Linked DNA regions of Homo sapiens. The protein of the gene in region 2 purifies or fractionates together with the protein of the main gene of each other region. This does not show direct contact. Each region holds a gene or a part of one and is shown on either strand. Other genes may lie near its edges. The genes, in order: MCCC1 and PCCB.

The links.
Region 1: the proteins of PCCB (region 2) and MCCC1 purify together in Homo sapiens (affinity purification with mass spectrometry; 2 studies listed by BioGRID and IntAct, with this or other methods). This does not show direct contact.

What each region holds. Positions count from the first base shown.
Region 1 is NC_000003.12:183,030,861-183,041,882, forward strand, and holds part of MCCC1 (methylcrotonoyl-CoA carboxylase subunit alpha, mitochondrial isoform 1 precursor), read right to left. Parts: intron 10,891-11,022; coding exon 10,707-10,890; intron 8,276-10,706; coding exon 8,166-8,275; intron 6,575-8,165; coding exon 6,358-6,574; intron 3,218-6,357; coding exon 3,131-3,217; intron 3,125-3,130; exon of another isoform or gene 370-3,124; intron 312-369; exon of another isoform or gene 1-311.
Region 2 is NC_000003.12:136,321,328-136,332,349, reverse strand, and holds the end of PCCB (propionyl-CoA carboxylase beta chain, mitochondrial isoform 1 precursor), read right to left. Parts: intron 6,025-11,022; coding exon of another isoform or gene 5,951-6,024; exon of another isoform or gene 5,936-5,950; intron 5,548-5,935; coding exon 5,440-5,547; intron 5,196-5,439; coding exon 5,095-5,195; intron 4,717-5,094; coding exon 4,618-4,716; intron 3,593-4,617; coding exon 3,493-3,592; intron 2,446-3,492; coding exon 2,324-2,445; 3' UTR 2,181-2,323; downstream 1-2,180. UniProt on the Homo sapiens protein: This is one of the 2 subunits of the biotin-dependent propionyl-CoA carboxylase (PCC), a mitochondrial enzyme involved in the catabolism of odd chain fatty acids, branched-chain amino acids isoleucine, threonine, methionine, and valine and other metabolites.

The DNA.
Region 1 (11,022 bases), about 47 Mb from region 2:
AACAGGCTTTTACTCTTCTTATCAGAAAGTGCCTCCAGTTACACCACGGCCATTTTCTTTGAATTTATAAAATACGACATGTATTTAACTGGCGCGAATGCCAACAGATCACAGTAAAGACACTACCAAAAAAACTCCTACCCTAGATATCTCTTGTCACATATAAGAGGACCTTAAACATCCTCTCATGCATTTAAGAAGGTATCAAGTGTGGCACCTGCAGTATTAGGTCAGCACGTGTATCCTGGAGTGTGGGTTCAAACCCTGACTCCACCAATAACTTCTGGTGTGACTTTTGGAAAATTACTAATCTCTCTGAGCCTTGACCTTGGCTCACAGAGATTAGTAATTTATAAAGTTCACACTAACAATAACACTAATCTCATTGGCCTTTTCTGAAAATGCAAATGAAACAATCTTTGGAAAGTGTTTAATACAGTATCTGACATAAACCAAAAACTCAATAAATCTTAGCTATTATCATTGAGTTTAGGCAGGGTTCTGTGAAACGTGGCCTCTAGTAGCAAAGTAAGAATAGCTTGCAAGCCTTGAATACTTAAAATAGTTGGTCATTCTCACTGTGGTCACTAGAAGTTGCTTCTGCTTTGGACTCATAAATGCTTCTGGCACCTTTTTTTTTTTTTTTTTTTTTTTTGGGACAGGGTCCCGCTCTGTCGCCCAGGCTGGAGTGCAGTGGTGCAATCTCGGCTCACTGCAAGCTCCACCTCCCAGGTTCATGCCATTCTCCTGCCTCAGCCTCCTGAGTAGCTGGGACTACAGGCGCCCACCACCATGCCTGGCTAATTTTTTGTACTTTTTAGGAGAGACAGGGTTTCACCATGTTAGCCAGGATGGTCTCCATCTCCTGACCTCGTGATCCACCTGCCTCAGCCTCCCAAAGTGCTGGGGTTACGGGTGGGAGATACCGTGCCTGGCACTTCTGGTATCTTTTTTTTTTTTTTTCCTTTTTAAAAATTTTTATTTTATAAATAGGGACAGGATCTCACTATGTCACCTAGGCTGATCTCAAACTCCTGCCCTCAAGCAATCCTCCCGCCTTGGCCTCCCAAAGTGCTGAGATTACAGGTGTGAGCCACTGTGACCAGCCTGGTCTCTTAAGCTTCCTGTTTCATGCATTCTATTTAATTGTGGTCATTGCTTATTAGCATTTTTTGGAGACTTAGCTATGTATCATTTTCTGAAAGCTCTTACATACAGACTTGGATTATTTTCATAGAATACTGCCAAAAGGGTGTAGTGAACAGCAATCATGTTGGCTTTTCAATTATGTATTTATTTTTTCATGAAAACTTTTTTTAATTCCAAAAAATGCAACATACTTCAAATCAGTGCTTGGTGCTTTAGTGAAGAGCCATGCCAAATAACACAGTTGGCCTATATGAATTACAATCAAATATGTAATTCTTCTGTTCAATTCAGGTTGAAGAAGCCAGTGAAACTTTACCGCTTTTGATATTTGCATTCAGCATATAGGAGTCTAGAATAAGATACTTCCAGATTTGGGGGGTTGTATTTTTTAGGATGAAATGAGCATAAATGGATGGGTTAACCATTTGCAGAATGCTACTATATAAAGATGTTTACAAATTTTCATTATAAAGGCTTAACAATATGCCCAATGCACTTAAGATAATGACCATCTAGGCTCAGGATTGAAAAATAACTGAAGAGCTGTAACCCAATAAACTTGTGTGAACAAAATATTTGTTACTGGCTGGCATGGTGGCTCACGCCTGTAATCCCAGCACTTTGGGAGGCTGAGGTGAGTGGATCATAAGGTCAGGAGATCGAGACTATCCTGGCTAAAATGGTGAAACCCTGTCTCTACTAAAAATACAAAAACTTAGCCGGGCGTGGTGGTGGGTGCCTGTAGTCTCAGATACTCGGGAGGCTGAGGCATGAGAATGGCACGAACCCAGGAGGTGGAGCTTGCAGTGAGCCAAGATCGTGCCACTGCACTCCAGCCTGGGCAACAGAGCCAGAGTCTGTGTCAAAAAAAAAAAAAAAAAAATTTGTTACTGGGTGAGTGTCTTCATAGAGGTGAAGTAAAAGAGATTTTCCTCTGTCCAAGGAAGAGCGTTCTGTGATCAGCTGGTGAAAGTATTCTGCTCTACCTGGGAGGCATATTTTTATACCAGAACTGTCACAGTTCAATGACATGTCACATTCAAGGTTAGCCAGGATTCTGAGCTCTGACTCTGCCCATTGGGCCTCCCACACAAACTGTCTCACAGCAGAAGGGATACAGTGACCAGCTATCATAGAATTCTGGTCCTGCTGCTACACTGCTCCAGCCAAAAGTTTATAAACTGCCTTCTGGCTTAAGCGTCAGCCTCTTTTGACATCAGTTAAAGAAAATCAGTCACTAAGTCGAGCCAACTCAAATTAGTTTACAATCAAAAATCAATTTTCTACTGGAAAAGTGGTGGAAACAGCCTAAGAGTCAATGTCACAAAGAGTAGGTGTGAATCCTAGTTCTGCCACTCACTAGCCTTGACTAAACTACTTCACTTCTGTGCCTTACCATCCATGCTTTCATCTTCCATACGTGGGTATAACAGCGACTCCCCCTCATTTACGTTGTGAAGATAAAAACTTACATCAGATAAGGCACTTAATAAATTACAGCTCTGCAGTGACCCACTTCCACCTGAAACCCCTGAAACACTGCATGGGCAGTGGGTAATCGTCCCTCTCTGACATAGTTTTGAAAACTGTTTTTCTTATTTAAAAGTAATACATTCTCGCTGCAGAAAAATTGCAAAGCAAAAAAAAAAGTACAAAGAATTGGGGAAAAAGAGGTTTTTTTGGGCATATTTCTAACATTCTGGCATATTTCATTTCAGCTGTTTTGCTATGTTTATTTTATGACATATTTTTAGAATATTTACAAAATTTTTAAAAAGTGTAAAGAAGAAAAGCAAATACCATCAACTCTACTACCCAGAGCCAATCAATTCTATTATATTGGCATATTTCCCTCCAATGTTTAGCCTAGGCATTTAAAAAATGTAACTGACTGATCATGGCCAGGCTGGAATCCTCTTTTTCAGATTAATGTGATACATTTCTATGACTCACATTTCTCTTTTAATGAAACATTACTTACTGTTTTTACCATCTTTAAGAGTCATGTTTCTGGTATACGAGATATTCAGTCTTCTTCCACTGCTAGACGAAAATGGAGAGAATTGATCTAGAAAAAATTTAAAATTCAGTAACAAACTTATGAGTATCAAGCCTATGAAATTTACACCTTACAAAAGAAAACATAAAATGCAAGTGCTGGCCGGGCACAGTGGCTCATGCCTGTAATCCCAGCACTTTGGGAGGCCAAGGCGGGCGGATCATGAGGTCAGGAGATCGAGACCATCCTAGCTAACACGGTGAAACCCCGTCTCTACTAAAAATACAAAAAAATTAGCTGGGCATGGTGACGGGCGCCTCTAGTCCCAGCTACTCTGGAGGCTGAGGCAGGAGAATGGCGTGAATCCGGGAGGTGGAGCTTGCAGTGAGCCAAGATTGCGCCACTGCACCGGATCCAGCCTGGGCGACAGAGCAAGACTCCGTCTCAAAAAAAAAAAAAAACAAAAAAACACACGTCCTAAACTGGCAGCTCAGATGTGCTTTTTTTGTTCTTCTTGTTAAGTTTAAAGGGCTGGTTTTGTTTACATCTTATGAAATTTCATGTGAAAAATTCTAGCTTCTATTGAAGAATCTGAATATTTGCAATCTAAACTCTAATCCCATAGTGGCATAAACTGTACCACAGTCACCACCTTTTGATGGGGCAAATTCATTCCAGGTCACCAGTCTCTACTATTCACTATTTTTCTTTCACCTGGCCTCTTTTACTCTTTTATGTTTTTATGTTGTTGGCCCAGCCCTTATAGGCCTTTTTTTTTTTTCTTTTTTGAGACGAGTCTCGTTCTGTCGCCCAGGATGGAGTGCAGTGGCATGATCTTGGCTCACTGCAACCTCCACCTCCTGGGTTCAAGTGATTCTCCTGCCTCAGCCTCCAGAGTAGCTGGGATTACAGGTGGGTGCCACCACAGCTGGCTAACTTTTCTATTTTTAGTGGAGATGGGGTTTCACCATGTTGGCCAGGCTGGTCTCAAACTCCTGACCTTAAGTGATCCACCCGCCCTGGGCCTCTCAAAGTGTTGGGATTACAGGCATGAGCCACCGCGCCTGGCCCCTTATAGGCATTTGGGTGTATATCCTCTATTGGACAATATCCAGGAGCTTCAGCATAGCTAAGCTGATGCAATTTATTCTGAACCTCATATCTGTACCAATTATAAACTTTCAAAAGGAAGGTCACAGTAAGACAACGTTCCATTCTAAAAACGTTAAGGTCAGGCTCAGGAATACCACATGGGACGTATTTAGATGCATTTTCATTCAATGTAAAAGGATAAAATGAGGATAGAGCACAAATCTTCTAAAGATGCAGTTTTCGGGACTTAAAACATTTTACATTTTAAGCTTTCCATACAGCTATCTTGAATGAATCTAAATGAATTCAGAAATTAAAGATTCTAATGATAGGATCCTATAATAATACGGGTTCAGTATCACTTACCCAAAATGCTTGGGACCAGAAGTGTTTTGAATTTCAGATTTTTTTTTTTTTTTTTGGATTTTGGATTATTTGCATTATATTTAACTGGCTTAGCATCCCTGATCCAAGTATCTGGAATCTGAACTGTTCCAATGAGCATTTCCTTTGAGCATCATGTTAGTGCTGAAAAAGCTTCCGATTCTGGAGCATTTTGGATTTGGGGATTTGGGATGCTCAAACTGTATAGGGTAATATAATAATTACCAATAAAAGAGAAAAATAGATCAGATTTTTAAAAATTCTGTTTGCTCCGAAAGTCAGAGCTAGCCTGAAATGCAAAAAGTATGTGAGAGCTGAGATTTTGTATCAATTTAAAGGGCAGAACTTTTTTTTTTTAATACTTTAAGTTCTAGGGTACATGTGCACAAGGTGCAGGTTTGTTACATATGTATACATGTGTCATGTTGGTGTGCTGCACCTATTAACTCGTCATTTACATTAGGTATATCTCCTAATGCTATCCCTCCCCCCTCCCCCCACCCCACGACAGGCCCCGGTGTGTGATGTTCCCCACCCTGTGTCCAAGTGATCTCATTGTTCAATTCCCACCTATGAGTGAGAACATGCGGTGTTTGGTTTAAAGGCAGAACTTTCTAATGGAGAACTGACTGAAACTGTAAGCTACCTGATGAGGTAATGAACTTCCAGTTTCCCAAGGTGTTAGGAAGAAGTTGGGCAACAGCTTAGTGGGTGTGCTGGGGTAGGGATGCAATGCATATGTGTGGTAGCCAGGATGAACCCCACTATGGCCCTTCCTATGCTTGGATTCTATGACACTATGAAGTCTCTAGGTAGACATTCAATCACAGGATGGAAAAAGCGGAAGTAATTCGACAATAAGTCATGGGTAACCCTGGGGAATCTAAGTCTCCAGTCTTAGATTGTCTTGAGACTCTGGGACAAAGGGAGTTGCTGCAGGTACAGAGGACAAAACAAAGTAGGGCTATGAGGAGTGGCGAACAAAAGAAGTGATAAGAAATTAGTGTAGGATGTGGGGAGAACAAGTGTTTGACTGAAAAGAGATCCATTTCCTTTTTTTTTTTTTTTTTTTTTAGATGAACTCTCGCCCTGTTGTCCAGGCTGGAGTGCAGTGGCGCGATCTCGGTTCACTGCAACCTCCGCCTCCCGGGTTCAAGCGATTCTCTTGTCTCAGCCTCCCGAGTAGCTGGGACTACAGGTGCGTGCCACCACACCCAGCTTATTTTTTGTATTTTTAGTAGAGACAGGGTTTCACCATGTTAGCCAGGATGGTCTTGATCTCCTGACATCATGATCCGCCCACCCTGGCCTTCTAAAGTGCTGGGATCACAGGCACGTGCCACCACGCCCAGCTAATTTTTTGTATTTTTAGTAGAGATGGGGTTTCACCGTGTTAGCCAGGATGGTCTTGATCTCCTGACCTCATGATCCAGCCGCCCTGGCCTCCCAAAGTGCTGGGATTACAGACGTGAGCCACCGCGCCTGGCCAAAGAGATCCATTTCTACAATGTTAGGTGATTAGTTACACTCCAGTTAATGGGTTAAATAGTGTTTATGGGTGCATCCATGGTAAGTGAAGAGCTTTCCTTCATACTAAAAAACACATCTGAAAAGAATGGTGTCAGTCACTGAGAGGAGAAAAGAGAGGTCAGTGTGCCATACAGAAAGAAAAGCATGTTCAATGATGATTTGCAAAACTTGACAAGCAGAGGAAAGAGAAAAGCCTTCCATACCATGTGCCTGAAGAGTGAAAGTGTCGGTCATGGCTTTCTCCTTGAGGATGAGACCCAGGGCTGCCTGGCATAAAGACTCTTTGGCTGCAGCCTTCCGACTGAGCAACAACTGTTTGTGGTGTTGAGGGATGAAATCAGTGTGCACGTTCCCAGCTTCAAACTCTGGGTGGCCAGACAGGTTGAGTAAGAAGTCAATGTTGGTGTGCAGTCCAACAATCTAGGAAGAGAATAAACCCCCAGTTCCTGCTGAGTGGGGAAAACAATATGTTCAGAAAACCATCTGCTCTTTTTATCTAAGTATTTTCTACTGTGAACAACTCTTAGGAAAAATAAAAAACCTACTAAGGTACCATGTGGCAACAGGACAATTCTCAGGAAAAAAAACACAAAAAAACCATCTCACTATCACTATGTCCATCCGCTATTACTATATCCATCTGGACTTGACACTAAAAATTACATTTTAATATGACAAAGAGGATGCTGGAAATACCGAGGCACTTACTTGACTCAGGTTAGGAACATAATAAATGTTAAGAAACATAAATGAAATTCATTTGCAAGGTATCGAAGACTTGCTGCTCAGAACACTTCCACAGAATAGGAAGACTGCAAACAGCAAGCTGGATTGCTATACTGGGGAGAGGATAGGATTAAATGCCCTCAAAAGAGCTTCTTTCCAACAATAAAATCCAAATTTTATATACCGATACAAAAATTTTAAAAGGTATAAAATTAACCCAAATACACCAATAAATGGGATCAAAAGTAAAACCAGCTATCTGAGCTTTGGGTTCATTCATTCACTCATCCATTCCTTCATTCATTTAACAGCCATTTCCTGAGCATCTCTTAAGTGCCAGGCTCTGATCCAGGCACTGGGGACATAGTGAGGAACAAAACATATGATGTCCCTGCCTTCACAGTCTCTGCTTACATTCTAGGGCAACAAGTAACAATATCTGTAAACAGGTATTGAATATAATGTTACATGCTATGAAGAAAATGAAGGCTGGCTAAGAGGATAAAGAATAACAAAAGGTCATACTTTAAATGGGGCAGCCTGGGAAAGGGCTCAGAGCAGGAGAGCAGGGTAGTCAGGAGGGAGCCCTGCAATCATGTGGGGGAAGAACATTCTGGAAGATTGGACAGGAATGCATGGCTCCATGCTGAGTGAGTCTCAGAAGCGGTGAGGCGGCCAGTGTGGTTGGAGCCACAGAGACCAGAGCTTTGATCAATTATTAACAATAACAAGTTGAATAACTGGGTTAATAAATCCTTCTATGAGCCAAATCAATGTGGTATGGGACTTTCTGCACCAAGGAAATTAATGTTCTACAGAAAAATAACAAACTCTATTAAAGGGATGAAACTGAACATAATTATTTTACTTTAGAGAAAAACTACTGGACTGCAGGCATACTGGGTAGCGAAAACAACATTCAGGAAAACATCTGCTTTTATTTCCTAAGTATTTTCTACTGTGGACAGCTCTTAGGAAAAATAAAAAACCTACGAAGGTACCATGTATAGCTGGCCTTATCTACAGAGTGAATAGGATTTCACCGAAGCATAGCACTGACACTAACAATTTTACTTCTGCAATCTTTCTTTTGTAACTGAAATGAAGAAGTCCTCAAACCCTGTTCTGGCCCACGCAAAATTCTCCCATGTGAAACTATTTTGTTTGGGCAATTGATGGAAATAGAAAATATGCTGACGAGACCAAGGCCCTGCCAAAGACAAAGGCTGACCTCTGGTGCTGACCAAACACATCAAGGTCACTGGCACGGTCTCAGATCACTCACATTGTACTGACGAAGGCTGTACCTCAGTTTTGTCAATGCCGCCTGGCGATCTGCTGCCCACACGACCAGCTTCGCAATCATGGGGTCATAATGCACGGAAACTTCGTCTCCTGAAATTGAAAACCACGGTAACCTCTTCAAGTCAAAACACGAAGGAATAAAATACAACGAGCAAGACATTTTGTTATGTACATTTCACGCTTAATCCTCATAAACCCCTGCATGATAAATAACAACACAAATTTATTCATGAGGACCCTGAGGTTCAGAGGGCTTTGAAAACTCACCAGGTGTAACGAGGTGGGCCACCCAACAGCACCAGGCCCTAACGTGGTGATTCAATGGCACACAAGCTGGCTTTCCCTGTCCTATCTTCTTCTGAATCTTCTTTTCCCTTCTCATTTTCAAAGTCAACACAATCTCCCTCCACCCTCTCACATTCCCCTCATTTCTGCCCTTAGCATTCCCCTCCCCTCCACTCTTTCAGTTTCCGTACTAGTCAAGCAAGTTTAATAATTCCTCTGTCCTGCAGGGTTGCTGGGAGGAGTGACAATAAAGTGACAAGTGCCATACCTGGCAAAACTGATAAACCAATGGCAGCTATCATCACTGGGATGGTTACAGTCCTAGAGAACAAGAATCTGAACCAGGGCACATTCCACTGGTTAGAAATGGTTCAAGTAGAAAGGATGTGGTGTGTTGAAAAGAACGTTGTTGCAGGGTCTTTCCAGGATTTTGGCAGGTCACTTGACCTCTTTGAACCCCAGAGTCCTCGTTGATAAGATTAGAGGTGCCTACAGGTGGCTCACGCCTGTACTCCCAAGACTTTGGGAGGCCGAGGTGGGCAGATCACAAAGTCAGGAGTTCAAGACCAGCCTGGCCAACATAGTGAAACCCTGTCTCTACTAAAAATACAAAAAATTAGCCGGGCGTGGTGGCGGGTGCCTGTAATTCCAGCTACTCAGGAGGCTGAGGAAGGAGAATCATTTGAACCTGGGAAGTGGAGGTTGCAGTGAGCCAAAATCGTGCCATTGCACTCCAGCCTGGGCAACAAGAGTGAAACTCCATCTCAGAAAAAAAAAAAAAAAAAAAAAAAAAAAAAGGAAGGAACCGGTGGGGCAAGCAGAGTTAAGATGCTTTGCTAAGTTAAAAAGTCTACTAACTACCAAATCTTGCTGTGGCTTATCCAGAGCTCTCAAAATGCTGCCAATTTATTTTTAAGAAGATCTAAATCCTCATTTTGGCTTTTAGGACACTAGGATTTGCCTTCAACCCATGTCTCCAGTCATATATTTTCTTACTATTCTTCAAACATACCTTTTTCTCTTTTCTTCACTCTTCATTATGCTGTTTAAATCTACCTATCTAAATCCATTCCAGACATCCTCTTAAAAACTTGTCCTGGCCAGGCACGGTGGCTCACCCCTGTAATCCCAGCACCTTGAAAGGCCAAGGTGGGCAGATCACTTGAGGCCAGGAGTTTGAGACCAGCCTAGCCAACATGGTGAAAACCTGTCTCTACTAAAAATACAAAAAAAAAAAAAAAAATTAGCTAGGCATGGTGGTATACACCTGTAATCCCAGCTACTCGGGAGGCTGAGGCCTGAGAACTGCTTAAGTCAGGGAGATAAAGGTTGTAGTGAGCTGAGATCACACCACTGTACTCCAGCCTGGGCACAGAGTGAGACCTTGTCTCAAAAACAAAAACAAACAAAAAAACAAACAAACAAAAAACTTGTCCTAATTATATCAGTCTAGTGTGACCTCTTACCCCTGAGAATTGCTATATCCCATCACTGTATAACTTATTCCAGCAATTGAAATTAAGATGACAGGAGACCGTGGAGGCTCAGAGCACTGACTCTGGAGCAAGACTGCCTGGGTCTGAATCTTGGCTCCAAGGATGACCTTGGACAAGTCACTTAACTCTTCTGTGCTCCAGTTTCCTCATCTAGAAAACAGGGATGATAATAATGCCTACTTACAGGGTACTTCTCATGGTGAAAGGAACACAAGTAGAAAAATCACCTAGAGCAGTGCCTGTAAGTAGGAAGTCCTAAATAATCACTAGTTATGACCACTGTTATTAATCATATGCTGAACTGTGATAGCTCTTCCACTGTTTCTTTACTTTAATTTTTTTATTGTTTAGCTTATACTAAGTTTATGTGTTAATTCTCCAACTTGACTTTATGTCCTTTGAAGGCAGTCTGCCTTGTGCATAGCAGATATCAGTCATCTTAAATCATTTTTGGAATGAGGCAAGGTCAAGAACAGTACACACAAAATATTTCCTGGTTAGGTTTGACCAAGTACTGCTGAATTTCAAAAAAAAGGAGTCCGTTGTTGAAAAATACTTGTTATTCTTTAAAAATAACAATTCCAGAGGCAAAAAGTAATGGTTACTGAGAAATCACTTAAATTCTTTATTTTAAAATATGCTAGACAGTTCTGTAAGACTCAGGGATAAGAATGTGTCCAAAAACAATAATGTACTAAAAACTTAAAAAGAGTGAGACTTTTCATTTTCTTTCACTTTACCTTGCCGTACTCCAGTTTCAATCCTGGTGGAAGGGTCTGCTCGAGGAGTAGAGAGGTGCACTAATGGGCCTGCCACAGGCATGAAGTTATTGCTAGGATCTTCTGCATATATTCTAGCTTCGAAGGCATGGCCCTGCAGAGTTATTTCTTCCTGGCTCAAAGGAATCTTCTCTCCTGCTGCAATCTGGCAATAGAATAGTGTTTCTTATGAAATCTACCGTATAGCGGCTACCAGACTTAGTAAATCAATGGTCTTGCTTTTTTTCTAGGTAAAATGTACATTTAGGTTTTGCAATGCAGCCAAATAAAAACTATT
Region 2 (11,022 bases):
TGTCCCACATATATATACACACACTTATTTGCATAAATTTTCCTAGTTCTGTCTGCTGAAATGCCTCAAAGCAATGATATCCAGTATCAGTGTGAATACCTAGTGCCAATTTTAGCTTCTAAATGACATACCTACTAAAAGAAACTAAGAAACTACTATATACTACTACTACATACCTATTAAAGAAACTCCTTGGAGAAACTGCTGATTCCTGGGCTGGGCAAGGAAAATACAAGATAAGCCTAGAGCATTATCTTGTCAGAAAATAACGAAATACTAAAAAAATCAGTGGGATATATTAAAAGCACTTTGGGAGGCTGAGGCGGGCAGATCACGAAATCAAGAGATCGAGACCATCCTGGCCAATATGGTGAAACCCCGTCTCTACTAAAAATACAAAAATTAGCTGGGCATGGTGGCACACACCTGTAGTCCCAGCTACTCGGGAGGCTGAGGCAGGAGAATTGCTTGAACCTGGGAGGCAGAGGTTGCAGTGAGTCGAGATTGCGCCACCGCACTCCAGCCTGGCGACAGAGCGAGACTCCTTCTCAAAAAATAAATAAATAAAATAAAATAAATCAAGTCCAAAATGATACTAAGAAAACAAAAACAGGAGAAAAGAAAGCTCCCTTCCTTACCTAGAGTTCCAACTAATAAATATGAGAGAGTTAGAAACTCAACATTTTATAATCAATGCAGAATCATTGATTGAGGCAAAAATCATCAATGAATACTAAAATTATTGGGTGAAAGTTTATTTATTTAATTTTCTGAGACAGAATCTAGCTTTGTCACCCAGGCTGGAGCACAGTGGTGTGATCTCGGCTCACTGCAACCTCCGCCTCCCAGGTTCAAGCGATTCTCCTGCCTCAGCCTCCTGAGTAGCTGGGCATGTGCCTCCACATCCGGCTAATTTTTGTATTTTTAGTAGAGATGGGGTTTCACCATGTTGGCCAGGATGGTCTCAAACTCCTGACCTAAGGTGATCTGCCCACTTTGGCCTCCCAAAGTGCTGGGATTACAGGCATGAGCCACTGCGCCTGGCCCAGGTGAAAGTTTATTGACAGACAAGATTAAATAATACCCCACAAATTAGTTATCAGTTACAAAGAGAAAATGGTAACTACCATGGAAAAACCTTTGCAGCCACGACCTTAACCATGTGATCAGAATCAGTTACCAACAGGAGGAAAAACTGACATAATGTGCTTACTAATGTGACGCACTGAAAGGAATATGTGTTAGTCTTATCTGAATCTAAACCTCAGGAAACAGACATCCCAAACTGAAGGACACTCTACCAAATAACCAGCAAGTAAGCTCTCCTCAAAAATGTCAACGTCATGAACGACAGACTATGTAAGACAAAGGACCTTGTTCCTAGGAGATACAAGTTTCTAGGAACACAGGGTCACGAATCTGCAACTGACTTTCAAAGGGGTCAATTAAATAATTATATTGTATATGTTATACAATTATATAATTATATAATGTATAAATACATAATATAAATATATAAATATATATAATCATGTTAGATATAATTATACATTAATTATATTAATAATATAATTAGATATATCTTATATGCATATTATATATTATTAGATATATCTACGTATGGAAGAAATAAAGCAAATGGAGAAAATGTTACCAACTGGAGAATCTAGGTGAAGTGGATACAATACACTTCTTGCAACATTTCTATCGGCTTGAAAATTTTCGCAATTAAAAAGTTTTTTTTTAATTTTAAGAACACATTTCTGGAAATAACCTGAGTCAACATAGGGTGCTATGCCTTATTGAGCATCTGTACTGCTAAACACATATACCACAATTGCAAACATCACATTTAATCCTCAATTCATGGAGGAATTAGGAGATAGATAGGGCATATTACCCTATTTTTAAAATAAGGAAACTTAAGCCTAAGAAATACTTTGCCTTAAAAACTTACTATATATCTCACCTATGGATAAAAAAACTAACTCGAGAGGAAAAAGAACAATACCCAGAGGTGTGAAATAAAAATCAGCTCTAGATGATAACACTGTGTACTATTTTTCTTTCTAGTTGTATTGATTTTTCAGATTTCCACCTAAAAAAATCGAATTTATGCTCAAAAAATACAACTTAAAATGTTTAAAAAAGTAAATAATTTTACAGTAAGGCACAAAAGAGATCTTTCTAGAATTTAATAAACTTAGTTATTCTAAGTTATCCAACTATTTGGATTCCCAGGTTTCATGATTGCAAAAGGCAGGAATGGGATGTGAATGGGCAGACAGTAATTCAGTTCTTGGTTTCTTTTCCTTTGATTTGTTTACAATGGAATATTTGCATGTTTTCTCCAAGGACGTTGTACCTTCTTGCTGGCCAAGACATCCAGGTCACAGCAGATTCGGGCACGTGTGGAAGAAGGTTGGATGATGTCATCCACAAACCCTGGTGAAGCACAGAAAAGGGAGTGGATCATCTGCATCCCGAGATGATGCCACCCCTCAACCTTCTGCTCAGCCTGGGCACCATCCCTGGGGCCAGCAGTATAAGCAGTGCCCAACCTGATACAGAGATGGTAGGCCCTGTGAATTCCCCCTTGTATCCCAGGAGCTGGCCTGTTCTGACAGCTCCCCAACTTCTGGCCTAGGAGCACTTGGCAAGAAAAGGAAAATCGGACACCCTCCCTATACCCTGCTTGCTCCAATGCCTCCATCCTGCCACAATGAATTCAATAGGAAATAAAGAAAATACATCTAGGTTTTCAAAAATGGCTATAACAATTCATCCTTGTACACAAGTCCTGCAATGTGACTTTACCACTTCTCTCTTCAAGAGGTGGATTTGTATTCCTTCGCTTAACCTTGTTGAGTTTTCTTGGCCTATAAAATGTGGCAAAAATGACACTGTGCAACTTCCAAATCTAGGCCTCAGTTTCCCTTTGCCCCCTTGCTACTCTCGGGACACCATGTAAGGAAGCCTGGACTAGCCTCCTCAAGGGTGAGAGGCCACGTGGGGAGTGAGTCTAGCTAACAGCAACTACCAAGTAAGTGACGCCATTTTGGACTGTCAAGCCCCGGTCAAGCCACAGAATGACTATACCTGTGTGGGTGATCCCAGGCAAGACCAGCACAAGAACCACTCAGCTGGGCCCAGACCAAATTGTGGACCCCACAGAACCATAAGCAGTGGGGGAAACGGTGGTTAGTTTAAGCTGTTGAGTTATAGGGTGAATTTCTGCACAGCACTAGACAACTGGAACAACACCTAGAAATTTAATACACTTTGGCAATGTTGTTTTAATTGTGGTTACCAAAGCAGCCTGTCCCACAGTCCTTAGTCCAAGTGATGACTGCCCAGGGACAGTCCCAACCCTCACTAGTCAACAGATTAGACTGCAAAGGCAAAAAGGCAGTTATGTGACAATTTCTGTAGAGAAAGAATGAGCAAGTTGACCAAACAAACAAAGCTGCCCTCTTCACCACAGTCCCCTACCTCGCACTGCTGCAGGGAAAGGGTTGGCAAACTTCTCGATGTACTCTGCCTGAGCAGCTTCCACATTCTCATGCCCTTTGAAGATGATCTCCACAGCGCCCTGTGATTAGAGGAGTTCATGAACATCTTTGGTCGTCCCAACCTGGACAGATCTCCTTCAACTCATTATCACTGTGTGTGGGTGCAAATTTCTTGGTAAATCAGTGTACTGAGGGGAAGTGCCATCTCTAAAGGCCATAGCATAGAGGGAGGAACTGCCTGGGGCTGACCATCATGACACAAGGGGCTGCATGATGGGATGTGATGCTTCCCTGTGGCCCCAATAAGGGGCAGTCAGGCAAAAGCCAGTAGCTTCTCTCCCCAGAGCCCATTCTACCATCTCCATTTGCACTCATCATATTTCTTTGAGCCAAAGATGTTAGCCCTGTTTTCCATTATTAAATCCATGGTCTTGTATCAAGGGGAATTAAATGTGCTATTTCCCTTTTTCGGTACCCTAAGACCTGAGTATACAATTCGGTGGCCAGAGGCGACCAGACTGAACTGGAAATTAGAAGGATTGGCCTTCAAGTCAGAGCACCTATAAGTCAACTCTAGGGGACCTGGAAGTTATCTGATTCGACCACAATAGCTACTTCAAAGCAGGGAGGAGTGAGGAATAGGTCAAGCAATAGGAAGTACCTTGTCCAACGTCACTAGGGTCGGACCTACAGTTTAGCTTCTTATGAGCTTAAAAGAGTAGCTCTGGGGCCCTCCCTGGAAGCTGAGGTGGAGCTGGGAGAATGTCCAATACTTCTGAAGGTGACTTCAGTTGACTCAACCCTTTGCCCCCTTTACTTACAATCTCAAAACCACTCTGGACCCCTCTCACTTTCCTTTCACCTGCCGCACCCACCTTGGCATGAAGACACCAGCGTGGGCCTGAAGAAAGGGTATAGGACAGGAGGCAGAGCTATCTCTGGAGCCCCAAGAGGGAGACTTACCAAGGTCTAGGTCCCATTCACCTCAGTCCTGGCTCAACCTAGGGGCCCTGGCCTCTCTCCAACATTTCCCAGCTATGCCTTGAGCTCTCGCTGGTAGAGTCGAGTCCTTGGACCCAGAAAGGGAAAAGCAAGAGGCCCTCACCTTTGCTCCCATGACTGCAATCTCTGCGGTGGGCCAGGCATAGTTGGTATCACCACAAAGGTGCTTAGAGCTCATGACATCATAGGCACCTCCATAGGCCTAAAACAGATCCAAATGCTGAGTGTTAGAGCCTGAGACAGCCAGATCATGTCCCTGAAAGACCCCAGGAAACCAGGTAAAATTGGGACAAAGAACAAGAATAGCCCTACTGGGCTCCTGAAGGCCCACGGTCTGTAAGACCTTTCAAAGTTAATGCTCATTATCTTTTCTGGCTTTTTCCCACTACTGCCTTCAGTTCCCCTGTGTTAAAAAAGCACAGACATTTCTGCGGGGCTGGGAACAACATCCTCAAGAGATCTTTTTAAGGATGAGCAAGGTGTACTCCTTCCAGCCCTGGTAAAACTCTGCCAGACCTCCCACCACGGCTATGCTGTAGGAAAGTGAGCAGGGTCATGGCCTCCAACATGAGGTCCTCACCTTCCTGGTGATGACTGTGACTTTGGGTACAGTTGCCTCAGCAAATGCGTAGAGAAGCTTGGCACCATGCCGGATGATGCCCCCGTATTCCTGTGCTGTGCCTAGACATGAGGAAGAGTTACTAGATACCCACAAGTCCTCACATGGTTATCCTGCCACTCTCAGCTGTGAGGTCTTTCCCACCTCTGGAGAGGGCCATTCCTTACACAGCCCTATCTTCTGGACACCCAGAATACATGGAGAAGTCACAAGTCCTCGGGGAGTTCTGCAAGAAGATCTCCAAATAAAGTGGGCACCTTACTGGGAAAGGCAACTCTCCTAGCCCCCACTCTGTCAAAAACTTACCAGGTAGAAAGCCAGGGACATCAACAAAAGTGATGAGTGGAATATTGAATGCATCACAGAATCTGACAAAACGAGCCCCTTTCACAGATGAATTAATATCCAAGCATCCTAGAAAGAGAGAGATTATCCATACTGAGTATCCAGGCAATTCCCAGTTCTATCCACAATGGGGATTTGTCCTCAGCAGCCATCCAAAGCTGGTTTCTGTGGAGGCACCAACACTTCTTTGTTGCAGAATGGTAACAAGGACCCCTCAAACTCCAGGAAACAGGGAAGATGAAGAATCCACCTGTCTGTCACTGGCCAAAGAGGCCCAGAACTAGACTACTACAGACTCACTACAGACCAAAGGGCTGCCGCCAGCTGAGACACAGCCGGCCTTGCCGCAGGGAGCCATCAGTGGGAGGCAGCATTCAAGGGCTGGTCTTAGAGAGTCCTCAGAGCTTCCAATCAGATTCTGGCTCCACTGATGATGGCAACGTGCCCTTGAGAAATTACTTTGCCTTTTGACCTAAGGTTCCTTACCTGCAAAGTAGGGACGATACTGCCTCCTAGCATAGTTCCAAGGAGTAAAGGAAATGGAATCTATAAAGCAGCACAGAGTAGGAGCTCAATTACTAGTAAATCTCCCCTCCTAGAAGAGTTTCCAACTTAATTCTATGAGACCAGTATTACCCCAATACCAAAGCAAGACAAGGACCATCATCAGAAAAGAATACAGACCAAAAACATAAATGAAAAATTTTTACTTTTTAAGTAAGGCACATTATCAAGTCCAGCAATATATACAAAAACAGTAGGCCAGGCGCGGTGGCTCATGACCGTAATCCCAGCACTTTGGGAGGCCGAGGCGGGCAGATCACGAGGTCAAGAGATCGAGACCATCCTGGCTGACAAGGTGAAACCCTGTCTCTACTAAAAATACAAAAATTAGCCGGGTGTGGTGGCGGGTACCTGTAGTCCCAGCTACTTGGGAGGCTGAGGCAGGAGAATGGTGTGAACCCGGGAGGCGGAGCTTGCAGTGAGCTGAAATCATGCCACTGCACTCCAGCCCGGGTGACAGAGCAACACTCCATCTCAAAAAAACAGTAATACATCATGTCCAAGTGGGGTTTATCCCAAGAATTCAAGGTTGATTTCAGCATGTGAAAACTAATGAAATTATTAAATAAAGGAAAAAAACTATATGAACATCTCAATAGATGTAGAGAAAATACCTGAAAAAATTTAATATCCATTCATGAATAAAAACATGGCCCGGCACAGTGGCTCACACCTGTAATCCCAGCACTTTGGGAGGTCGGGCAGGCAGACCACTTGAGGTCAGGAGTTCAAGACCAGCCTGGCCAACATGGTGAAACCTCATCTCTACTAAAAAATACAAAAATTAGCCAGGCGTGGTTGCAGGCACCTGTACTCCCAGCTACTCAGAAGGCTTGAGGAAGGAGAATCACTTGAACCCAGGAGGCAGAGGTTGCAGTGAGCCAAGATTGCACCACCACTCTAGGCAACAGAGTGAGACTCCATCTCAAATAAAAAAAAAAGGAAAGGAAAGGAAATAAATAGGCAAGTCACAAGCCAGGCCCTAGAAATCAACAATAAAAAGACAATGTAGTCCCAGCTACTCAGGAGGCCAAAGTGGAGGACTGCTTAAGCCCAGGAGTTTGAGACCTGCCTGGGCAACATAGTGACACTCTGTCTCTAAAAGAACAAAAAAAAATGGCCAGATGTGGTGGCTCACACCTGTAATCCCATCATTTTGGGAGGCCAAGGTGGGCGGATCACCTGAGGTCAGGAGTTCAAGACCAGCCTGGCCAAAATGGCAAAACCCTGTCTCTACTAAAAATACAAAAATTAGCCGAGCGTGGTGCACACCTGTAATCCCATCTACCTCAGAGGCTGAGGCAGGAGAATTGCTTGAACCTGGGAGAAGGAGGTTGCAGTGAGCCAAGATCATGCCACTGCACTCCAGACTAGGTGACAGAGTGAGACTCTGTCTCAAAAAAATAAAAGAAAATGGTATGAAAGCTCTGTGCCTTTTTAATTACACTTGTCCCATTTCCTCCCTGGTTCTGGAGGAAGCAGAGCAGACCTCATTCACAAATTTCCGCATATGTCTGCTCTAACCTGTCTGTGGGCTGCCTGAAGGACTGACACAAGGAACACATCTCTGTTTCACCTAACTCAGAACTTATCCAGGCTGGAAATGTAGCAGGCATTTCTTTAAATCATGGTAAGGTAGAGGAACAACCTGCAGATGTCTGGGCAAAAGATTACTGTTGAAACCACCTAAGATATGGGAGAAAAAAAAAACAGAGAGTGTCTTTAGGAAATTAGTGCATTCAAAAGCACCCGTGAATAGGGAGAATTCAGAAAGACACATGTATGCCTAGGATGAGATACACGATCAGAAAAGATCTGAGAGGGGAAATAAGAAAAGAAGTTGAATGAAAATGAAAACACTATTACAAAATAAAAGACCAGAGAAAACCTTAAACTTTAACCTTGAGCTGATCTCAAACCTTAGTTCAAGTTTGGCTAAGCATCAAAGGAGAGCCCCAACACAGAGACAATTTCAAGACCAGGAGTTTTCTTGTTTGTTGTTTCTTGGTTTTAGTTCCTGGTGTTCAAGAAAATTTCTGTCAAATATACAAGTTAAGAAACAGGCTGGGCATGGTGGCTCACACCTGTAATCCTAACACTGTGGGAGGCTACTTTGGGAGAATCTCTTAAGGACAGGAGTTCAAGACCAGCCCAGGCAACAGAGCAAGACCCTGTCTCAAAAGAAAGAAAGAAACAATAAGAAGAAACAGGGACTTCAGTGACCACAAATGACAAAAAATATAGTCTCTGGAAAAGTCATTGCAAAAAGACACTAGGCAAACATATATGACATTAAATATCAAAAAAAAAAAAAACAAAGCTTGGGAAAAGAGGAAAATTTGACTGCCAGCGTTACCACATTATAATGTATAAATACCCCATTTTCAATTAAAAAAATCACAAGGTATAAAATGAAGAAACTATCCCTAAGTAAGCATAGACACTGAACTTACTAGAAAAAGACTATAAAACACTACTAGTGGGTTTTTTTTTTTTTTTTGAGATGTTTTGTTTTGTTTCTGAGATGGAGTTCTGCTTCTTGTCACCCAGGCTGGAGTGCAATGGCGCCATCTCAGCTCACTGCAAGCTCTGCCTCCCAGGTTCATGTGATTCTCCTGCCTCGGCCTCGTAAGTAGCTGGGACTACAGGCACCCTCTGCCACGTCCGGCTCATTTTTTGTATTTTTAGTAGGGACAGGGTTTCACCACATTGGCTAGGTTGGTCTCGAACTCTTGACCTCAGGTGATCTGCCCACCTTGGCCTCTCAAAGTGCTGGGATTACAGGCAGGAGCCACCATGCCCAGCCTAAACTAGTCTTAAATATATTCAAAGAGGTAAAGGAAAACATGGACAAAGAACTAAAGGAAATCAGGAAAATAATGAAAAATTCTGGAGCTGAAAAGTACAATAAATGAAATGAAAAATTCACTACAAGGATTCAATAGGAGATTTGAGCAGGCAGAAGAAAGATCAGAGAATATGAAGATAAAACAATTGAAATTACTCTGAGGAGAAAATAAAAAAATTAAATGAGCAGAACCTAAGGGACCTGTGGGACACCCACATGTGAACCAACATACACAGGATAAGAGCACCAGGAGAAGACTAAGAGAAAGTGGCAAGGAGATAATCTGATGAAATAATGTCCGAAAACTTCCCAAGTTTGATGCAAGATGTGAAACTAGAAATATAAGAAACTCAACTAACTCTAAGAAGAATACATTCAGAAACCCACACTGAGACATATTATAGTCAAATTACTGAAAGACAAAAGAGAATCTTAAAAGCAGCAAAAAAAAAAAAAAAAAACTCATCATTTACAAGAAATCCTCATTAAGATTATCCAGTGATTTCTCAGCAGAAACTCTGAAAGCCAGAGACAGCAGGATAACATATTTAAAATGCTAAAAGAATAAAAGTGTCAACCAAGAATTCTATATCTGGCAAACTGTCCTTCAAAAATGAGAGAAAATTTAAGAATTAAGACATTTTCAGATAAACAAAAGCTGAGGCCCTCAGTACCAACCAGCCTACTCCACAGAAAAATGCTAAAGGAAGCCCTTCAGGTTAAAAGAAAAGAACACTAGACGGTATCACAAAGCTACATTAGGAAATAAATATCTCAAGTAAAGATGACTACATGGGCAAATATAAAAACCAGGATTTGAGTATTTTGGTTTCTAACTTCACTTTTTATTTCCTACATAATTTAAAAAGCAAATAAAGCCCAGGTTTCAACTAGTGAATTCTACCATACATTTAAGGAAGATATTAATACCAGTTCTCTACAATCTTTTCCAGAAGACAGAAGCAGAAAGAATACTTTCTAACTCATTCTATGAGTCCAGCATCACTCTGATACCAAAACCAGACAAAGACATTGCAAGAAAACTATATCTCAATATTGCTCATAAACATATATGAAAAAATCCTCAACAAAATATTAGCAGATCAAATCCAACAATGCAGAAAAAGAATTACACATCAAAACCAGGTGGGATTTATCTCAGGTATGTGAGTTTAGTTCAACAGTCAAAAATCAATTAACGTAATCTATCATATCAACAGTCTAAAGAAGAAAAATCACATGATCATATGAATACAAAAAAAGCATGTAACAAAATCCAAAATACATTCATGACAAAAACTCTCAATAAACTAGGTATAGAGGGGAATTTCTTCAACTTTATAAAGAACATCTATGAAAAACCTACAACTAACATCACACTTACTTGTAAGAAACTAGAAGTTTTCCTGCTAAGACCAAATGTCCCCTCACCACTATCTTTCAATATTGTATTGGAAGTCCTGGCTAATGCAGGAAGACAAGAAAATAAAACGTATACACATTGAGAAGGAAGAAATCAAACTGTCTTTGTTCACAGATGACAAAATTGTCCATACAGAAAATCTGAAAGAAGTGACCAAAAAATAACTGCTGGAACTAATAATATAGCAAGGTTGCAGGATAAAAGGCTAATATACAAAAATCAATTACTTTCCTATATATTGGCAATAAACCAGTAGAATCTGAAATTTAAAACAAAATACTATTGGTATGGGATAGCTCTGTGTGCCCGCCCAAATCTCATCTCAAATTGTAATACCCATGTGTTGAGAGAGGAAGCTGTAATCCCCATGTGTTGAGGGAGGGACCATGTGTCAAGGGAGGGAGGTGACTGGATCATGGGGGTGGTTTTCCTCACGCTGTTCTCGTGATAGTGTGTGAGTTCTCATGAGATCTGATGGTTTTATAAACATCTGGCATTTCCCCTGCCTGCACTTCTCTCTCCTGCTGCCATGTGAAGAACGTCTGCTTCCACTTTGCCTTCCACCATGATTGTAAGTTTCCTGACGCCTTCCCAGCCATATGGAACTGTGAGTCAATTAAACCTCTTTCCTTTATAGAATACCCAGGCTTGGGTGGTGTCTTTATAGCAGTGTGAAAACAGATTAATACAACCATTAACCTCAAATATA